Linked DNA regions of Homo sapiens: region 2 is linked to region 1. A link means that fine-mapping ties the variant in region 1 to the expression of a gene that starts in the linked region. Tissue or cell type: hippocampus. Region 1 holds a variant in brackets; the other region holds the start of a gene. All regions are shown on one strand. Distances are between the middles of the regions.

Region 1 (8,420 bases):
CACTCTTGTAAATCCAAGAGTACAAAAGCTAAAGAACTTTGAGTCTGATATTTGAGGGCAGGAAGTATCCAGCACAGGAGAAAGATGGCCAGAGCAGACTCAGTGAGTCCATTCTTCCATCTTCTCCTGCCTGCTTTCTTCTAGCCATGCTGGCAGCTGATTAGATGGTACCTACCCAGATTGAGGGTGGGTCTGCCACCCCCAGTCCACTGACTCAAATGTTAATCTCCTTTGTCAACACACTCAGACACATCCAGGAATAATACTTTTCATCCTTCAATCAAGTTGACACTCAGTATTAACCATCACGTTGTTCACGAGTGGAGTCCCCTGTTTTGCAGCAATGAGCTTGCCTTAGGCTCGGCTGCTGTGCCATGACAGGGATGCTGCTGGTCAATTACTCTTCACTGCAGGCATCTGAGTGGAGTTTGGGTCCTATGGCCACCAGACCTCTACCTAAGAAGCCTAGGATGTGGTTGTAAATCCCAGGGCACTCAAGAGGGTTTAGAACCCACTTAAGTCTGAAGCAGAGAATGGATCCTCATGTTGCTAGTCTGGATCCCATGGGGTTGAAGGAAATTGGCTCCTGAAATTACTCCTGATCCCAGTTGCACCGAGCACTGGGAAACTTGGACTACTTAAATGCCTGAATTGCGTGAGTTGTAGGTTTCAACTCAGCAAGTCTTTGGTAAGGCTGGTCAAGTGGTCTTCTGTCTGGCTAAAAAACTTGTTGGAAATTCAGTGGAGTCACTTATTCCTGGACATATTGTAGGATAAGTTAATAGGGTTGCTTCTTTGGTATGAGTGTCGAAAAAGATAATCTCAGGTACTTGAGGATACCTGTTTCCTTAGCTGCCTGAGAGGCTGTTGCTTATGTGATATACCCCTTTCATGAGTTGCTCAGATCAGAAAGTGGATCTTTGTTTTTTGACTAGGCATCCCAAGGCTGTGTAGCTAGATACATTTTGTAGTCCCCCAAATTTTTCTTATCAGGGAGTCCACGTTGTGAGGTCTCAAGGGACAATAACAAGCCAAAGCAGGACCTGAATGTTAAGAGGGAACTCCTTAGCGAGTAGGTTGACCAAAACTCAGATAGCCTAGTTGATCGTACACTGTCAGCACCTTACCTAGGACACTTGTCAGGTACTTCAATATTGATGCCCACGTTGGCAGCTACACACACTCTGACATCCTTAGGGAGAAATCGACCATTCCCCATAGATCTGACTCCAGCTTAAGGTATGCCATGTCCCGACCCTTCTCTCCTGACTACAGTGACTAGTTCAGGGATGGGCATGCCGCTGAAACCCTAGAAGATATTGCTAGAACTGATGTTTCCAGAAGAGCATTTGGAAGGGAAAAAAACTTGAATGATTAGTGCAAAGCATTTGTCATGAAGGGAGTGCCTAGAACTTCCCATCCAGAGGGTGGTGGGGTTGAGAGTTTAATCTGATACCATGGAGGGTAGAAGAGACAAAGGAAGTCTTACTCCTGGTGCACCTGAGCCTGTTGAATCAGTCTCACTTGGAGCCAACAGTGTTTAGACTTTGCAGTTCGTGAGCTAATGAATTTCCTTGTTACTAGGCCAATGCAGTTGGTGGGATTCTGGATCACTTGTGATCAAAAGAATCCTAATACTTGCAGCCCAATGGAGTGTAACCAAGGATGTGGATATTAGAATAAACTGGGTTTTCTCTCACTTGCAAAGTTAAAACCAACCTGCTAGTTAACAAGCTTGGAGTTAGGAGTACTGAATAGTGTCTAAGGCTTATCAGATTAAATACTTCAGAATAGGGAAGGGAGAAGTAAGCCTTCAGGAGAACTAGAAAGGCTGTGCCAGAGCCCATGTAACATGGACATCATGCTGAATTATGGCTGACCTGCTTCTAATTCAGCAGCCTTATGTGCCGCTCGTATAAAGATAAGGTGATATGTTAAGCTTCTGTTGCTCAAGACATTCTTTTAAAGTCAGGTAGCCCCCACCACTTCTGGAACTTCTGTGCAGGAATGACTAAAGTTGAAACAACAAAGCTTTAAATGGAAACACTGTAAAGGGATGAACTAGCTGATGGGTGTCATGTCTATAACACGAGCCCTCATGCTAGCATGGGTGATACAATTGCCAGGATCCAGCTAGCCTCCAGTAAAAACAAGTTTGAATTTTGGCCTCCCTAGTCAGTGTTCCCCTGACCATTTATGCTCGAGAAACTCAGTAATGAGCCTCTTGGGGCACTGAGGCCCTCTGGTATATGGCTATGTGCATGGCAGCCATAAGTTCATCTGGGCTAGTAGCAGACATGGCATATAGAATGGAGTCAGATAGGAGAATCGAAAATAACTTTCCTGGTGCACTTATGAGACAGTAACATGGCAAACTGAAACATGACAGTTGGGAGGGGTGGGGGTTCCCTCTTGGAAAGGATGACCCATATACCTCAAACGTGTCAACATGAAAGTCAACACCCAAGGTATGAAGGTAACTCAAGATCTGGCCTAGTCATCTCCGTTCAGACGAATGGTCATCCTCCCTCTGAATGGAGCACTTGTGACAGTGTCATGGACATGTATACGCTACTTTTCACATGGGGCTTTATTCCGGAGCTGTAGAAACTATATCTCAACTTACTATAGAGCTGAGTTTACCCTAGAGTCTTAGTTGGCATCTAAAAACTACATGCTATTGTGTCATGAGATGCAAAGGCTAAAGTAGATTGAGAGCTTCAAGAATCTTGGGGTTGAAGAGAAAGTTCTATAAGGAATTGAACCTGGGAGAAGATCAGAGGATCACACATGTCTGACTTGGGAGGAAAGAGAAGAAATGTCAGATAGGAAGTGGCTTAGTATCGCACCTCAGTCTAAGTGTTTTAGCAAATATCCTGGTAAGTCCCAGAGCCCAAATCCCCACTGGAGTCACATGTGTCCTGAATGGGCATATTGAGCACTGCAGCTGCACCTTAATGGCTGCCAAGTCAGCCCCTGTGCTGCACAGAGGGACCTGGCTACACAGGCTCTCAGAGCAGCAACTCCATGTCCCTCAGGCCTCCTTTCCTGAGTAAACTCAAGATGCTGTGACAAAATGCAGCTCCTGTGGCTGTAGTGGGATCTTGGGTCACAACGAATCCTCATCCTCTCTCCTCCAATATCCACTGCCAAATTCCCTTTGGCCTCAGCTGTGATCTCAGCTGAAGGTTCACGCTTTCCGGGTGGTAGGACCCAGATCTTCAGCCTGAGGGGCATAAAGATCTAGAGACCATAGGTTTTCAAGATAGTGCTGCTTGGCTGTATCTGTTGGAGTGGGGCAAGGAAGTTGAAGGATGCCCGGTTGCATCAGCTGGGTTCCATTCATTCTTACTACCTCTCAGAATATAAAAGTAGCCCTCTGATCAGTCAGTTACTCCTGAAGAGTGACTCTCAAAATCCCGCAGTGGTTCACATGGATTGATTAAAAAAAGCATAAGTGGCCCCCACTTTTTTTTTTTTTTATTTCTTGGTTCCCAAACCATTAGTTTTCCTGCTGGGCCTGCAGTACCATGGAACAGCCTGCCTGATGTATGTACTGCATCCTATATGAGGGTATCCTAAGTGTGAAGCCTTTTTGACCCAGTAACTAGTGCTTCTGCCAGGCTTCCTGAGGCTGTCTGAACATTCTACAAGGCTACTTCTGAATGGTCTTGTGTAATAATGACGGATGACCTCCTCCAAGACCCAGATCCCACTTGGTATCTTTGTGACCTGAGTCACTTTGAGAACTGAGGTTCACAATCTTGCCCAGGTGGGAACACTGAGTCACATGGCAAAAATTGAAGTTCCTGAGAAATTTGGGTCAGTTGGGGCCTCAGTTGGCCAGCTTCTGAGATGCGCTTCTCTGGAGTAGTAGTGACTGACAGTCAGAGTCCTAAAGAGACTTTTGGGGCATGCAGGTGTGGGTGGGGTTGGGAGGCAGTTTTTGGGAAGGGGAATGAGTTAAGCTGAAAGGAAAATGGATCACAAAGCTGGGGATTCAAAGTGGAAGCTGTTTAGGACAGAGGACCTCAGTGAGGGGTGGCGGGGGTGGGAATAGAAGCTAAAGTATAAAGCAGAGTGAAAATAGAGGAGCTGACACTGGCTTTTCTGTTAATGCCAAACACCTTGGAGCATGGATTGAGGGCCAAAGAGTAGAGGGTTGACAAGGTTCTGCAAATGTTACCTTGAAAAACACCTTGTTCATACTTTTACATAGAAAGGAATCAGAAGGCAGAAATGTATGGCTGTATCTTCTATGTTTTCACCTTCCAGTGTCTTACTGTGTACAACTTTGCTTTAAAATGGGAGCCTTGCTAGGCCTCTTAGGCTTGTTTAACTTTTTTCCCAATGTGGGGAAGACACGTGATAAAACACGGCAGAGTAAACAATGTGAGCATGAGACCAAGTCCTTGTGGGAACAGAGCACATGGCAGCCTGACATCCTCCCTGCATTCGCCTGCAGCTGAATGTGCTCATGTGCAACCACAGGGTCACTTGCAGGCATCTTCAATTTGCATAGGGGCTTGGGTAGACAAGTTTTGCCAGTCTTTGCAATCAATGTCCCAATGTTGACTTTGGATAGGCAGGACTATCGCTAGAACTTGTTGTTTCCATGGCTCTTCCAGAGAAGTTGGAGAATGTTAAAGAACAGTTATGATGCTTGATATGAGTCAAAGTTCTTAAAGCACTTCATGATTTTTCTGCATCCTTGATGGCTAAAGTCAGCATGTTACTGCATGAGGAATTTATAGGCAAACTACTTGGCCAGGGAAATTTAGCTGAGGTGTCATTCTAGGTTTAGAATGTAGTTCACCTGAATTGATCTAGTGTTCTTTCAGACACCACTGAATTTACAGAAGCAAAACACTCACTACACTTCTCAGGTCTTGGAAAATGCTACCAGTACAGAGAAAGATGATAGAATTCCCAAATACCCTCTACCCCCTGGTGGCAAGATGGATATCTGGCATCTCCTTGCCCCCAACCAGTCTGGCTCTGTTGACATCCTCTCTGATTCAGTAATGCTAGTTCTTGGACTCT[A/G]TGTAGACCGTAGATAAGACCATAGTGGGCATTGCTTCTCCTGGATTCAGAAGGTAGAATTATCTCTGGCTTTCTAGACACTTGTGTTTTAATGGGACAGATGAAAGAATTCCACAGGTGGAGTCAACACGAGGGAATACACCATGCCAGTGTAATAAGAATTATCTAGGGCCATAAAGGGCTGCAACATGTTGGCTTGTACCTAGAAGTTAGAGGAAACCATGGTATGGCATGTTATAAAGGGGCCAGAAATGGGCAGAACACCTCTTCATGGGACTCCAGTGTTTCACTACCAAGTATACTATTCTCAGGAACATCCTAAATCCTTCAGTCTGTTCAACTCCCTCAGTTTCCCCTAGGTGTTGTAGATAGCTTGTATCCAGATGACTGACTTTGGATTAAGGGCTCAACATGTGGTTAAGCTATTGGTACGCTGACTGACACCCTCTTTTAAATACTGAGACAGGTGTCTGAGAGGTGAGCTTTAAGTGTATTAGGTGAATGGGCCTCTCTTCCAGGTCACATTGCTGAAGACCCTGGAAATTGCTATGAGCATGAGGGGAAAATCTAAGCTATAGAAACCACAACTAGAGCATGGTACTGGTGTGCCTCAGGTACTACAAAGTGATAGATGGCACAGGTGGGGGTACAAAAGATGACCCAAGTGAGGGTAACATTCCAGACACCCATAACTTTCAAGCACAAACTGAACCCTTGGCTGAGCCCTGTCCTCCATTATATGGAGTCCTATGGAGAGTTGTAGTGTGCAGGATCTGGATTTTGCGCAGTTGCTGTACTTGCAGGCCAGGGCAGACCCTCATCAGGCTCTGTCCTGTGTGACTCTTGAGTCAACAGTCATGTAGAGACAGGAAGTCAGAGATGGAAGTTGGGCTCTTACTTCCAGGAAAATGACCTGACATGGGTCCTGTGAGAACCAAGGCACTGACAGGGTAACTTGTCCTGTCTCCTAGGATCCCCTTTTCAGCTGAACAGATAAAACATGATTGTGGAAGAATCCTCATCTGCCTTGTTAGATTGGAACTTGCATTCCGGAATTAGAAGTAATATTGATGTTAACACATCCAAGTGCCTGTCAAATGGCTTACTGTGGTTCTTGTCTGTTATGTCACAACAGACTTCTGACTGTTCAAGCTAACTTGTGCCTCTTTAAAGAAGGTAAAAATTGTCCTACCACGGGCCACTGAGATGCTTCTTGCACTCTGTCCTTTCATGAACTAGAAGTCAGCCATGCTGTTGTAGGTCAAGGTGCCTGCATAAGACTTTCTAGGGGAGGGGCAGAGGAGAGAGCTAAGCAGGCATATGGTATGTTGGAGTTCAGCTTCCATCTGGGCCCATGGTGGAGCTCTGAGGGTACAAAAGCATGTTGAGGGTACAGAGCATGTTGCTCTGAGTGTGCAAGTGCCATGTTGAGGTATCGATGTAAGCATCTTATTCCCAGAGTCAGTACTGGCTGTGGGCTGCTGGGGAAGAGGTCTCTACTAGGCTGAGGGCAGTTCTCCAGAAGAAGTGGCTTGGGAACCATTAGCAGCCAGCAGTCTTAGCTGCTGGGTGGTAAATGCCCTGACTCAGTAAAAGGGCATCGCATGAAGCACCAACTATTTTCATCATACATGCTGGAACAACTTGTCCCACTGATGGCAAGAAGGGGGTGTGATTGTGTACCAGCATACTCTGGTTGTTGCCAAATCTGTGACTTGGTGAGTATGTGGCTGAGCATGTTGCCACATGCAGCAGGTCCTCTTCACATCTGAGAAGGGCAGTGCACACCAGACTCTGTGAAGCTCAGCATGTTTGTGGTGCCAAATATGGAGACGGAAGTATCATGGAAATCCAGAAAGGAGAAGTGGAAGGAACTGGCTGGCAGGATGGCAGTGACATGGGCATCTGTCACTCAGCATAGCAGGGACCCTGGGACCTCACCAAGTAGAATTTAAGAGCGCAAGAATCATATTAGAGAATGGTAAAAGCTAATCACAGAGCTGGTAACTCTTCTTCCCTTACCTAATTCTGTTGAGAGCAGTAAGCCCAGCCACAACTACTTGTTTTGTGATACTTTGTAGCTCAGGGTGGGCGTGACTCCAATTTCTACTTACATCTTATGGGTCTGAAGGTCAATGGGCTTCCCAGGTTATCTACTTAAGAGGAACAGTCTTGGCTAGCACACGTATTTGCATTTCCCAAATCTAGTGAATTCATAGCTAGTGATTTCCCAAATCAAGTCATTTCATATCTAGTGATTTGGACTGGATTTGCTTTCTAGTCTCTGACCTGCTTTTCCATGTAGAAGCACTTGGCACAGGTTTCCTGTCGAACTGCTGCCTTTCCTATAGAGCCCTCCAGATGGAATCTCATCTTCAGTGACTGGGTGTGCTTGGCAAGTGAGATGGCATGGTAGGACTAAAGTTGTGCTTATTCTAAGCAGGTTGGGAGGAGTATTCAATAGGGCCACTATATCATCGACTTCCATTCTTCTAATTAAACTGGAAACTAAGAATTAGGTCTGTAGATATCTTAACACCACAATTCATGAAGGACATAGCAGGAGTAGTCTATATATCTATCACTTCCATAGATTGAGTTGAATAGGAGTTCAACATGCTATTCCCCCATGTTCCAGATGGCTTGGACCACAGGGTAGACTCTCCCCCATTTTTGAATGATTGTCATTCTAACTGGCATGAGATGGTATCTCATTGTGGTTTTGATTTGCATTTCTCTGATGACCAATGATCTTTTGTTCATGTTTGTTGGCTGCATAAGTGTCTTTTGAGAAGTGTCTGTTCATATCCTTTGCCTACTTTTTCATGGTTTTTTTTTTGTTGTAAATTTAAGTTCCTTATAGATTCTGAGTATTAGACTTTTGTCAGATAGGTAGCTTGCAAAAATTTTCTCCCCTTCTATAGGTTGCCTGTTCACTCTGATAGTTTCTTTGGCTGTGCAGAAACTCTTTAGTTTGATTACATCCTATTTGTCAATTTTGGCTTTTGTTGCCATTGCTTTTGGTGTTGTAGTCATGAAGTCTTTGCCCATGCCTATGTCCTGAAGGTATTGCCTAGGTTTCCTCTAGGGATTGTGTGGTTTTGGGCTTTACATTTAAGTCTTTAATCCATCTTGAGTTAATTTTTGTATAAGGTATAAGGAAGTGGTCCAGTTTGTTTTCTGCATGTGGCTAGCCAGTTTTCCCGCACCACTTATTAAATAGGGAATCCTTTCAATCTTATGCTCTTTTGCCACAAGGATAAAAACCTCTCAGGGAATTAGAACTGAGTCAAAACCTGTCCAGTGGCTGTAGCAGAGCCCTTCTAGACCCCTAGTCCCAGGTTCCTTTGAGGTATGTCTCCAGGCAGGAGCAGTCT
Region 2 (6,091 bases), 300 kb before region 1:
TGGGATTACAGGCATGCACCAGCACATCCCACTAATTTTTGTATTTTTAGTAGAGGTGGGGTTTCGCCATGTTGGCCAGGCTGGTCTCGAACTCTTGACCTCAGGTGATCTGCCCGCCTTGGCCTCCCAAAGTGCTGGGATTACAAGGCATGAACCAGTACGCCTGGCCCAGAACCTCTTTTTTAAGAGGCATTTACTTTTTACCAAGTTGAAACATTCATTGGAAAAGCTCTCCAAATAAATTGGGGTTCAATTAAAAAGGGAATAGACCCTAAATTACTAACAATGCCAAATATTCACTATAGCTGTTTTCTAAAATGCAAATTTTCTTTGCTTAAAGACCTCCTTGACTCTTCATTACCTTAGTATGGCAATAAAAATTATTCATTTCCTAGTCTTTACCCTCATCTCCAACTCAAAATTTATTGAATATACCAGACCATGTGACAGAAGCTAATAGACAAAAAAGCACTCTTACCTTGAGACATTCATAGTCTAGTGACAGAAGCGTGATAGTACGACCACTTCTTGATTGCTTAATATGTCTAAAGCAGAGTTTACTGGCAATAATAGCTGGGGTGGCCATAAGTCCTTGTTTTTCCTATTGTCCTGACATCATTACTATCAGCACAAACCCCCTTTTCCCAGCCTCAAAAGTTTCTCAGTTTGGACAGAAATTATAGGTCATTCTAATAATAATAATACAGTATTTTCTCAGTTAACTCTCAAAACAATTCTGTGAAGGAATGAGATGTTCATTCCTACTGGATAATGTGAGTAGAGTTTTATAAAAAGACTATCTGCAAAGGTATGTGCAAAATGAAGGGAAACCATAGGGGTTTACTCTGGGTCACCCTAGGGAGGGATACTGGCTGCTTCCTTTGGTTGAGGGAGGCAACCAGCCTGCAATGGTGCCATAGTAAGGGAGCCAGGGGGGAATAAATAACCATACTCCTTCCTCTTTGTTCCATCGCTGTTGCTTCCTAGTGCCTTCACTCAACTGGAAGCTAGAGGGAAAGAAAGTCTCTTGAGTTAAGGCTCCAAAGGACAGACAGCAGGTTGGAGAGTGGATCTGGCTAACAGAACACGTCCTCCCCCAGGACTCACTGTTACTACCCTATTTTACAATAGAAAAAAAAAAAATGAGATGAAAGTTTAACTTATTTGATATAACAAAGCTCATAAGTGATCATCTGTAGCTGAAGTGCCAGGTTCTCCCCACTCTGCCACTCTCTCGCTAAGGCTCCAACATTCTAGCAATGCCAGGATACCCACCCTCCCCATAGCATCTTCACATCCCAAATGAGATGTTGGAATATGTAACGTTAAGTTTTGCTGATTAGAATAAACTAACCTACCCACCAAGGTAGGGCATTCACATTCTTACAATCTAAGCAGATGAGTTTACAGCATATACATTCACAAAATAAATAAGTAAAAAAAAAAAATTTGATAAACAAATTCTACAGTCTGTTCTGGTCAAGATAACACAGTTCCTTTGCAACTGCCCTTACATCCGGTTGGTGGTGTGTGGAGCCCTCTTTTCCCAGGCCTTACATGAGGCCTCTGGTCCATGGGCAGTGCTGCTGCTGTCTGATCCTCCTTATGGAGAAAGGACAAAATGTCCATGTACCAGAGCTGCAGAAGAAAGTATTTGTCTTCCCCCTCCCTTTGCACAGCACCCATCTGTGTGTAATCTTATTATTATATATTTTTTGAGACAGGGTCTCACTGCGTCACCCAGACTGGAGTGTAGTGGCGCGATCTCGGCTCACTGCAACCTCCGCCTCCAGAGTTCAAGCGACTCTCCCACCTCAGCCTCTATAGTAGCTGGGACTACAGGCAAGCGCCACCATGCCTGGCTAATTTTTGCATTTTTTTAGAGCCAAGGTTTCACCATGTTGGCCCACCTCAGCCTCCCAAGGTGCTGGGATTACAGGCGTGAGCCACCGCGCCCGGCCCATTTATGTGTAATCTTAATTCAACACTTATTGAGCGCCTACTGTATGTTTGGCATAAAATGGTGGTCCCTAATTTCAAAAGATTTGGAGTCTAGAGGGCAGAAATTGAAGAGGTTGGTGCTCTGCACGTCTGAGTCCGCCCACAGACTGAATAAATAAGCTCTGCGTCGGCGCCCCTCACCTTTCTTTCATGGCCAGACTTTTCTCTGGCGGTTCCACAGCTGTCCTGACAGTGGAATTCAGACGGGGTGACCAAGCCCCTAGCCCACCTACCAGCGAAATCCAGCATCAGTTCCAGGGCAGCCGGACCCGCGCCCGGGGACGACTGACCCTTAGCCCAAGGCTGCGGGGGCGTCGGAGTCCTGAAGCGCAGGCGAGGCAGGGCCAGCGGGACAGGGAGACTCAAGGCCCCAGGGGATCTGGGCGTTTGAAGACTCAGGTCAGACTCTGAGGCGCCCGTCTAAAGAGACCGGTTGTCTTTTCCCTAATTCAGGAGGCCAGGCTGTCCCTTGGGGCGTCGTACCGAGGGCAGATCACAGCCCTTCCCTCCTCACCACACTCCCTGTGCTTCCACCCAGCTGGTTCCCCGCCCTGTCCATCGCTGTCCTCAATCGCTTGTTGTCGTGGGCCCCCCTCTCCGGCCCACGTGGGGCCGCAGGGATCCACAGCTCATCTGACACACCTCGCTGCCCTGCACGCACCGGGACCCCTCCATTCCGCCGGCCCCTCAGACACGCAGTAACACCCCAACATCTGCTGGGAAAAAAATCTTCCCCACGGCGGAGGAGTTCTCAGTCCCACGCGCCCAGAGTCGCACCCACTCGAGCCACCCGCCTGTTGCCGTCGCCACGCCCTCCAGCCGCAGCCCCAGCGCGCATTCCTACGGGTCGCCGGGTCTGTCGCCAGCGATCGAATGAAGTCGGCTGATCCCCCACGTGTGGCTGCTCCAGTGACACCCAGGGGAGGCCTCGGTCCTTACCCCTAGAGCAACCAATGGCTGCCTTAATTCTTCAGCGGGGGCGTTCTTTTTCTTCCTCCCAAGCAGGCGGCCGTTGGGTCGGCCGAAGGCAGCAGCGACTACTACGGCTCTTCCTCTCCAATGGGATCCCCTGTCTGCCCGCGCGCCACAGTGACAGCTTCCAGATGCCTGTCTTTAGTCTCCCTTCTCAAGGGAAGCGGTGGGCGACCGAGGTGCGGCCTGGAGGGCCCCCATGTGGGAAGGGAAGACTTGCGGAAGGGCAATTCTTCCAGTGCGGAGACGAGGAGGCCAGCCCAGCCGCACTTCGGTCGCCCACCGCTCCGCCTGGTGGTCCGCAGCCCCTTCCAGGCCGGCTTCTCCGGGTGGGGCGTGCTAGTCCGGGGCTAACTTTCCGCCACGTGCTGTCCCTGCGACCCGTCTCCCCCGGTCGCCCTTCCTTCTCCCGGCGGCCGCTGGAGCTGCCCGCTTCGTGGAGCCGGTGGCAGGCCCCGGGGCTGGGAGCTCGCGCCCAGGCTTTTACTCAGATTCCAGCACCTGATGGAGCAGGGGGTGGCGGCCAGCGCACAGGCTGTCGGCATCTCATGGCAGCGGAGACGGTCGTTTGGGGACGGAGGGGCGAGCCCCGCGGCCGGGGCCAGTGGAGCTGGGCTCGGAGCCCGCCCACCATCCTCCCGCCCACCACCGCGGCCGGGCGCGCAGGCTCACACCCCTTCCTGGGGAAGCGAATGGTCCCTTCCAGGCGGGTGGCCATGTTGCTCTAATAAAGCGGGAGGGGCGGCGGCGTGGGGGGAGCAGATGCCGCTGGCTGCCAGCGGGACGCCGGCGAGCAGAGCGCAGCCGCGAGGGAGGCGCGAGGGAGGCGAGCCGGAGCCCGAGCACTAGCAGCAGCCGGAGTCGGCGTAAAGCACCCGGGCGCAGCCGGAGCCGGTGCCGCAGCTGCGATGGCCGTGGCCGTGGGGAGACCGTCTGTGAGTGCTGGGGCCTCGCCTGCTGCTCCTCGGGCGCCGGGTGGTCTCTGCTCTGGGGCGGGTGCGGTGAGGACCACAGGGGAGCCGGGCGGGTGCTCGGCCCCGCGGCGGCGGCGACGGCTGTGGGTGTGTGCACGAATTTGGGCGCGCGTCTGGGGTCGGGGTTAGGAGCCCAGGGGCTCAGTTACGTGATGCAACAGTGGATCGCCTCGTCGCGCCCCTCTTCTGGGAATGCGAAAGAAAAAGGACCCCTCTCCTGTTCCCTTTAAAATAATTCTTTGAGGCGCGGCGTGTCTCAGCCGCCTCCCTCTGCCCGCGCACCTCTTCCCTCGTGACAGCCAGAAGGGCGCCGGGTTCGGGGCTTTCCTCCAGTCTCCCCCGCGCCGAGGGGGCGCTCAGGGCATGGGAATTGCGAGCTGAAGTGCTGCGTGTGGCACTGCTGTAGAAGCAGGTCAGAGGGGTGGGATTTCCGTGGTGGCCTCCCCAGCGCATTGTGAGATCCCGGACACCCTCGGGCATCCACCCGGCTGAGCGGGCCCTGCCCAGGATGTGGACAAAGCCCCAGATAACACACACAAAGTTTTCTGGAGGCTCCCTTGTGGTGTGGGTGGAAGGACTGAAATGTTCTGCGGCTGAAAGGCCGGGGGCGGCGGGCTGAGGAGGCTGGGACGCGAGGAAGAGGAAGGGCGGGCGGGTGCGTGAAGAATCGAGTGCCCCACGGCGGGAGGGAGGAGAGTAGGAGGGAGGAGATACCTTTGCCCCGAGTGTGTGGGCCAAGGCGCCGCGCCTACTGGGTTGCAAGACTCGGTCCGCGCCCCGGGGCCGGGCCGGAGGGGAGCGGGACTCCGAGGGTGCGGTTCAGTGGCCGCTCCGCATCCCCAAGTGAAAGGCGGAGGAAGGGGCGGCGGCGGCCTTTCCTTTTTTTTGAAAGGAGCGGAGCTGGGTGGGAAAGGCGGAGTCCTCCTGTTTTCCCTTTCCCCTTTTCATCGTCGATGTTCACAGTCCACTCGCCTTACTGGCTTTGGGGGCGCCTCGGGCGATGTCTTTCCCTGTCTATCACCTCCTCTTCCCTTTTTCTTCTTCCCTTTCCCACAGCTGTGCAGCTGCAGGTGGTGGCTCGGGAGATTTTGTAGTTACAGACGAAAGACTTACTGAGATACTGGAAGCTCGGAAATCCCAGAAATGCAAGGCTGTGCTCTCAGGCTCCCGGCTCTTCCCCCTCTCCCCGCCTAACTCCTCCCCAGATACGCGCGCCTTTTGCACCCTACCCCCTCGGGAGAAGTTCATGGGTCCCTTTGCGGATTCTAATTCGATTTGGTGGTTCGGCTGCCCGCGGTGCTTTCAAAGACGTTTTCTGCAGTCAGAAAACACAGCGGTCATATCGAATCATGACTGTCTTTTAGGCCTTTTCAACTCTACGATTTAATGACATGGCTCTTTTAAGAATTCTGGTCTTCTTTTGCACATAAATTGTGCTCTTGATAATTAGTGGTCACATGTAGGTTATTGTTACTGAGGGAATTTGCATAGTCTCTGGGCTAGTCGTTTTATTTTTGGTGAGAAAATTGAGGTCTATAGAGGTGAAATTTATCTGGTTAAATTACTCCTCCCCCTGCCCCCCATTATACTTATTAGCAGGCATAGATTCAGAGAACTAAAATAACAATATCTGCTTTAGATAAATTGGCAAACGTTTAGGATTGCAAATATTCAGTGGGGGTGTTTGGCTTTTTCAGTAACACGTATTATTGCTGGTGCATTCTTGAGGGATGGAGGAGGTGGAAGAAATAATTAGCTGCACATTTTCTATAAATTAGTTCATATATGTCAGTTAAATAGGAACAGTATGTGGATTTAAGGTTTAGTTGTGTGGCCGTAATCACATCCAACACCAAGTCGGCCAACCATATGTGAGCTTAATCCCACAGAATTCTTATGTTAGACCTCCCTCTTCAGATAATAGAGGAGATTTTTTTTAAGTATACGTGCACAGAGGAAGTGACTTCTTTCTGCGCACTCTGTTGTCACTGGAATTAAAATTAAATTACAATCTAAAGACAGAAGACTTTTCTTTTGGAAACCTAATGTACGAGTGATTAGGAATTGACTATAAAGTTAGAAAGTCTACAGAAAATATGTGATCACATTTCACAGATAATTGTTGAATCCTTTCACTTTGTTCA

Evidence for each region. PIP is the estimated chance that this variant, and not a neighbour inherited with it, causes the effect.
Region 2: it holds the start of SEPTIN11, and the variant in region 1 is fine-mapped to the expression of SEPTIN11 in hippocampus (GTEx, PIP 0.94).

What each region holds. Positions count from the first base shown.
Region 1 is chr4:77,244,578-77,252,997 of GRCh38, forward strand. No RefSeq gene overlaps it. Among named protein-coding and RNA genes, the nearest start is that of CCNG2, 92 kb to the left of the region's middle. The variant A/G (reference allele first, on the strand shown) is at 5,044.
Region 2 is chr4:76,946,023-76,952,113 of GRCh38, forward strand. SEPTIN11 (septin 11) reads left to right here and starts at 3,730. Exons shown (of 10, transcript NM_018243.4): 1 at 3,730-3,908. The coding sequence starts at 3,882. LOC105377294 (a long non-coding RNA gene) reads right to left here and starts at 3,543. Exons shown (of 3, transcript XR_001741739.2): 1 at 2,941-3,543. RefSeq lists an enhancer at 2,515-2,594 and silencers at 3,505-3,684, 3,715-4,024.